Regions from separate parts of the Homo sapiens genome. Here region 2 is reported to be linked to region 1. Evidence: microRNA targets listed by miRTarBase, many of them from high-throughput screens and not tested one by one. Region 1 holds a microRNA gene; the other region holds the end of a gene's coding sequence.
Evidence for each region. The annotated mature microRNA hsa-miR-6820-5p reads UGCGGCAGAGCUGGGGUCA and lies in region 1 at 2,397-2,415, opposite strand. An mRNA with a match to its seed (bases 2 to 7 or 8) in the 3' UTR can be bound and repressed. Matches are read on the target gene's strand: a 7mer-m8 pairs with bases 2 to 8, a 7mer-A1 pairs with bases 2 to 7 and ends in A, and an 8mer does both.

Region 2: the mRNA of PIAS4 is a reported target of hsa-miR-6820-5p. Seed matches in the 3' UTR shown: 7mer-m8 at 1,568-1,574.

What each region holds. Positions count from the first base shown.
Region 1 is chr22:37,966,589-37,969,982 of GRCh38, reverse strand. MIR6820 (microRNA 6820) reads right to left here and starts at 2,420; the gene lies at 2,359-2,420. It overlaps POLR2F (RNA polymerase II, I and III subunit F), which reads right to left. Exons shown (of 5, transcript NM_021974.5): 4 at 2,813-2,884; 5 at 671-2,358. The coding sequence ends at 2,268. RefSeq lists enhancers at 1,167-1,461, 1,844-2,344.
Region 2 is chr19:4,037,150-4,040,543 of GRCh38, forward strand. It overlaps PIAS4 (protein inhibitor of activated STAT 4), which reads left to right. Exons shown (of 11, transcript NM_015897.4): 10 at 225-355; 11 at 467-2,237. The coding sequence ends at 726. Among named protein-coding and RNA genes, the nearest start is that of ZBTB7A, 28 kb to the right of the region's middle.

The DNA.
Region 1 (3,394 bases):
AGTTCTAAAACTGTCTAATTACATCACCATGAAGCACACACTTCTCTGTCACAGTGGCATGGAGACTACTGATGCCTTGTCAAAATCAAGATTCACTGATCTCTGGCATTCTCTCAACCTACTGGACCAGTAACCATCGAAAAAAAAACTTATTTGGCAATATTGGTTCTTAGACACCCTATGCTAGTGCCCGATCTCCTCTTTATTATATAAGCACTTTTAAACATGGAGGGACCTATTCTAGAATTTTGTCATGGATCAATCAGTACTAACCTTATGTGTTTATAATCTTTACAACCCACCCTTTCCCCTTCATTGAAAGGCAGGACTTTTGTCCATTTGTGGTCTGTTCACTACTCCTGCTCGCCGTGGGATGAGGGATATGGAGCTGGCACAGTGGGGAGCAGGGGGCACATCCGGAAGATGACACTATCACCTCCAAGACCCCACATCTCATGAGAGTGAGTGGGAAATCACTGAGGATGTGGAAGGAGGGGAAATGACCCCAAGGAAGTCAGAAGACCTGGGTTGTGTGCATCCCTTAGACCAAAGGTTCCAAGTGTGCACAGGCCTCAGGAAGGCAGGAGCTCCACTTGTTAAAAAAGGGTCAGGTGTTTCTGGAAATGACTCAAGAGACTATGCCCAAACCCTAAGAAAACAGAACCAATAGTGGTGACCGGGACATTTTATTCAAGAGAAGTCAAAAGCCAGGCCCAGACAGCTGAATAGCAGGGGACTCCCCAAAAGAGGAGAATGGGAAGAGGAAGACAGGAGGAAAAACACCCCTTCTGTCCCATTTCCCTTGCACTCTATCCCCTAAGGGTTAACCCCCAATTCCCCTCCTCCCCAGCCCAAACCCCATCTCCCTTTAATCACATCTGATACTGAGCAGCCCAGCAGGGAACAAAGAGACCATTTAGAGAAATGGGGCCGAGAAAGTGACCCCCGCACTCTGGGGCGGCTGCCTGGATGCCAGCACAAAGGCGGCATTTCAGAGCTGAAATTTCAGCACCCAACTTGATTAAAGGATTCCACAGGCTTGGAGGAGGGTGGATGGGAGTGTGAAGTCCACTGCTCCCTGAATTAACCCTTCTCCAGGGCAGCGGACACCCCTCCCACCAATGCAGATCCTCACCATTCACTCCCCACATCCCATCCCAGGGCCAGGCTGCACCTAGGCCTGGAGGCCCTGCCTCCTGCAGAGGTTAGGGAAGCCCAGCTCCTCCTCTTTGAAGGGGAGCTGGCAGTGGAATGGAGGTTAAGGCTGGCATATTCAGGGAGCCAGTTTACCCTCTATCCCTGTTCATGTCAATATACACCCTCCCCCTGACCCCCTCTAGGAGGGAGGAGCCAGTGTGACTGGTCTTACCTCAGGTTGGGTAAGCAGGGTGGAGAAAGGAAGAGGACCCATTAGAACCTCAGGCAGAGGAAGGGGGAACTCCAGCTCTGACTTAATGTAACACCTGGAACCCAGGAGCACCACCACCCCAGCACCATGTCCCCAAGGCCTCAGGGGATCACCAGCCCCAAATAGGAGGGAAAGGATATCTTATAGAGGCTAGGAAGAAGGCATGGGTGTGGCACACCAAAGAGGTGGGCCACAGAGGACAGCGTGTGGGCAGAGTCCTGAGGAGGAGTGGGGACAGAGCCATGGGGGCAGGGGTAGGCAGGTGCTCGGTCCTTGCTCCAGCTGCTGACTTGCCCAGCAGGGCTCTGCCTGGGGAGGGTGGGAGATCAGCACACCCCCACGCTTCCTGCTGGGGCACTGCTCCTGAAAGGGGATCCGAGCCCACGATAAGAGGCTCGAAGCAGGTCCTTAGGAAACAATGGGTGGCTTGATGAGACCTGCTCTGTGATACTCCTGAGAAGGGAGAAGCCCCTGCAGCCAGTCCCCACTGGAAAGGAAATTGGGGGTTTCCGTGGCAACCAGCTCCCTGGGCACAAAGACTTGTCTGTCTGCTTGGAAGGCAGCTGAGGTGTCTCCCCTGCAGCAGCCTTTGCTCTGGGGAACAGGGAGATGGAGGGAAGGATGTGGGGGATCCAAAGGGGCTAAGGGCCCCTGGTGCTTCTTAAGGAGCTGACAGTCACAGGGCCACTGGAATAGGTGCATGCTCCACGCAGCATGGCGGTAACGGGGAAGCAACAGGTGGTGACATTGCAGATAAGCAGAGGGGAAGGGGGTTGGAAAGTTGAATATTTTATTATTTACACATATAAAGTGAGAATGAAAATTGGGCATGGGGCAAGGGCAGGAAGATGACTCCAGCTCAGTCGGTGATGATGAGCTCGTCCACCCCCCAGTCTTCATAGCTCCCATCTGGCAGGTAACGGCGAATGATGATGGGGATCTTTCGGGCCCTGTGGCAGGGGAGAAGTCACAAGTACATGAGGGCTGGTGACCCCAGCTCTGCCGCAGAAGGAACAGATTGTGTGCAAAACACAAGCAAAGAGAAGTCTTAGGAGCAGCCTCTTGGGGCTGATGAGTGTACTTTGTAAGAAAGCAATTACAAGAAAAAGAAAGTTTTTATATCAGACAAGAGGGGGAAGAATGACAGAATATTGGTAAGGCCTCCTGCAGCAGGAACAGGGAAATTCCAACAGCCAGAAGACGTCCATGTCTCATCAGTGCCCTCCCACTTTCCCTGCCTCCTCTTCTCTCTTCCTCCTACTTCCTGGTGAGCTGTTCCTAAGGATCTGTAGGAATAAGCATCAACTTCTCCAGCCAGGCAAGTGGGAGCAAAGGGTGCAACAGAGAGCCCAACAGATGCCTCCCAGAGATTTGGAGAAGTGAACCATGATTTGAGTGACTTACTTGAGTTCCTTCATGGCAATGAGCAGAGGATCTGTCTCCCCCTCCAGCTCCACCATCACAGGGGCACACATCCTGTAGGGATAGGGACAGGTGTTAGGGAGACTACAAACCCAGGGAGAAGGGCCCAACAGGCAGTGAGGGTGGAACGGCATCCTGGTCCCCACCTAGAAACGTCATCTTCTAGGTAGGCAGGCACAGTAGGGAGTGGTGTGTAGGGGCACTGCCAGAGATCTTCCCTGGCAGAGGCCTATCACAGACTCCGGAGTCCAGCGGCCACAGCAGAATGTCCTGGTGGAAAGGGAGACATGTGCAAAGGCACACCATTCTAACTGCTCCAACCCCAGAGCCTTGCCTCAGTGCCCAGTGCACCTCATTTCAATTTCTATTTTCTCTCTCTACTTTTTGGAGACAAGGTTTCACTCCCATTGCCCAGACTGGAGTGCAATGGGGAGATCGTGGCTCACTGCAACCTCCACCTCCCAGGCTCAAGCAATTCTCCTGCTTGGGACTACAGGCATACACCACCAGCTATGCTAATTTTTTTATTTTTTGTATAGATGGGTGAAATTAACATTTCGCCAT
Region 2 (3,394 bases), not on the chromosome of region 1:
GGCAGTGCCGTGCACTGCAGACCTGCCTGGGGCTCAGCACCTGCAGGGGCCTGAGGGCGGGGGAGGGAATGCGGGGTCCCTGGACCCCTGCGGTCGGGGTGGTGAGGCTGCTCTTGCAGAGAGAAGTGGGGAGTGCCTGGCTGCATCCGGGAGGGATGGAGGGCTGGGGAGTTGGGGGGGTGGGGCACCTCCAGCCCCGGCGTCAGCTGTCCGCCTCGCCCCAGGCTCCTCTCGAAGATCCTGAGCGAGTGTGAGGACGCCGACGAGATCGAGTACCTGGTGGACGGCTCGTGGTGCCCGATCCGCGCCGAAAAGGAGCGCAGCTGCAGCCCGCAGGGCGCCATCCTCGTGCTGGGTGAGTGCCTCACCCCACCAGCCGCGCAGTCCGCAGCCAGGGCCGCCTCAGTTTCCCCATTTATCAGTGGTTGCATCCTAAGTACCTGCACCCTGTCCCTGTTGCCCGTAGGCCCCTCGGACGCCAATGGGCTCCTGCCCGCCCCCAGCGTCAACGGGAGCGGTGCCCTGGGCAGCACGGGTGGCGGCGGCCCGGTGGGCAGCATGGAGAATGGGAAGCCGGGCGCCGATGTGGTGGACCTCACGCTGGACAGCTCATCGTCCTCGGAGGATGAGGAGGAGGAGGAAGAGGAGGAGGAAGACGAGGACGAAGAGGGGCCCCGGCCCAAGCGCCGCTGCCCCTTCCAGAAGGGCCTGGTGCCGGCCTGCTGACCCCGGCCGCACACTCGACTTTCCTGGTGCTCACCACGCAGAGGGGCACGGGCCAGCCTCGGGCGCAGAGGGAGGAGTGACCTTTCTTTTTCTTTTTATTGTCGTTCGTTTTGTTTTTCCACCCTTTTGCCTGGCTCCTGGCACCTGTACCTCTGGACTCTCCTATCGGGGGATTAAAAAAAAAAGTAAAATGACAAAAAAAGATACAAAAAAGAAAAATGAAACAAAAAAGTCAAACTCTTAAAAACAAGGCCGGCCACCCACACAGCCGCCTCCCCGGCTGGAGTCCGAGCCGGGAAGGGGTAGTGGGCGGGAGGGACCAGGACGCCGCCCCGCGCCCTCCCCTCCGGATGCCCCGCCGCCCGCCGCCCTCTGCCCACGACCATTCCAGCCAGTGCGCGGGGACCCGGGCGGCGGGCGGTGGGGCGCAGCCCCTCTCTGGCGACCACTTTGACGTTTGTCTCTTCCTTTGCTTTTTCTCTGCAAATGCATCCTCGCCCAGAGACCCTCACGCGCCGAGCAGCGAGCGTTTTAGCCGAGAAGCCATGGAGTGGGTTGGGGCGGGGAGGGGCAGTAGGGTGGGGGGATGGGTGGGCAGGATGGGGGTACAGTGGGCGGCTGGGGAGGGTTTAGCCACAGATGTGTTGTATTTTTTGAAAGTGCAATAATTTGGTATTTTGAAGACCCGGCGTGTGGTCAGGAACCCCCGGGGAAGGCGGGGGCCCAGGGTGCGGCACCGTGTGGCGTGGGGGGGTCTCAGTTTTCTAGCCAGCTACCTCGGTAATTCCAATTCAGGTTAACTTCCCTACGGAACAGCACAGATGTCCACAGATGTCCACAGCTGCCGCCGCCGCCGCCGCCACCATACCCCGGTCCTTGGGGCATGGGTTGCGGTCGCTTCCCAAGGGGCAGCAGGGACCCCGGCCACCCCGGCTCTCGGTTTGGGTTGATTCCTCTCCTTTTTGCTCTTGGTTTTCCGACGGGTACGAGGCTGGCCCGGCACCCTGTCCCCCGGGAGCCTCACTCTTCCAGCAGGACCAGACCAGGGGCCTCCTTCCTGTCCCCAGGCGTTCCCGGCCCCTCGCAGGCCCCACCCATGCCCTTGGCCTCAGGGTCCAACAACTGGGGGAGCTACCAGGGCTCTGCCTTCAGGAGCCCACAGCTGGGCACCCCCCTTGCCCCGCAGGAGACCGGGGCGCAGGCGGGGCACCGGCCTCACCTGGTTCTCCAACACCGCTGCCTGCGGTCTGTTTTGCTTTTGTCCTCCCCAGCCCAGAATTTTCCTTTGTATAAACAGAACTCCTAGTCAGGAAGCAATATCATTTCAGGTCTAAAGAAAGGGACGTGCATCTGGCCGAGGGCAGTTCAGTCTCACTGCAGAGCCCGCAGCCCGCTGCGCAGCTCGGCCCCTCCCGCCCGCACGGGCAGCTGAAGGCCGCTGTTTTCTAATATTTGTATTCTAATTTAATTGTTTTTAAAAAATGCAAATAAAAAAGGTCGAGGTGAAGCCATCCAGGCGTCCGCTTTTCTGTGCCCTGTGTCTCTTAAGTGTGTACCCTGTAGTCGGGGGGCGGAGTTGGGGGAAGGACAGAAACTCAGCCTCACCCACATCTCTCTTTCTTGGTTATTGCCTCAGCTTCAGAATTCAAAAGGTGCTGCTCGTGGTCAAATGAGGCAGATTTTTATTTATTTACTTATTTTTAATAGAGACAGGGAGTCTTGCTGTGTTGCCCAAGCTGGTCTTGAACTCTGGGCCTCAAGTGATCCTCCTGCCTCAGCCTCCCAAAGTGCTAGGATTACAGGCATGAGCCACCATGCCCGACCTGAATGAGGCCAGTTTTACTGTGTACTGTACTGCCTGGGCCTGGTGTCCACCACGCTGGGAGAATGGGAGAAGGGACTTGGGCTGTACATGGAATTCAGGTCCCAGGATCGTCCATGTCTCTGGGTGGCCAAGACGATACACAAATGTTTTGCTTTTGTAAGGTGAAAAAAAAGGGCCGGGTGCAGTGGCTCACGCTTGTAATCCCAGCACTTTGGGAGGCCGAGGCGGGTGGATCACCTGAGGTCAGGAGATCGAGACCATCCTGGCTAACACAGTGAAACCCCATCTCTACTAAAAATACAAAAAGCTGGGCGTGGTGGCGGGCGCCTGTAGTCCCAGCTACTCGGGAGGCTGAGGCAGGAGAATTGCTTGAACCCAGGAGGCGGAGGTTGCAGTGAGCTGAGATCACGCCACTGCACTCCAGCCTGGGCGACAGAGCGAGACTCCGTCTCAAAAAAATATATATACAGACAACCAATGAGCACATGAAGAGATGTTAGGGATGTGAGTCAAATGCACGGTGAGATACCTGTCACCCCCACCAGGACAGCTAGCATCAAAAACAGCAGCGAGGGTCAGGGAAGCTGCAGTCCACATGGCTGGGGAAGATAACGTGGTGCAGCCCCTTGGAAACAGTTGAGGCTAAATGTGGAGTTAGCGTGGGACCTGCAATGCCAGCCCTAGACGTGTCCCCAAGGTAAGTGAACACGTCCGTCCACACAAATGTGCTCACGGACGTGCACAGCAGCCAAATGTGGCAATGACCCATGTCCAGCCGGGGAGTGAATCAGTGCAGTGTGGCCATCCACACTGCAGAATGACAGCCATGGAAAGGAGCGAGGC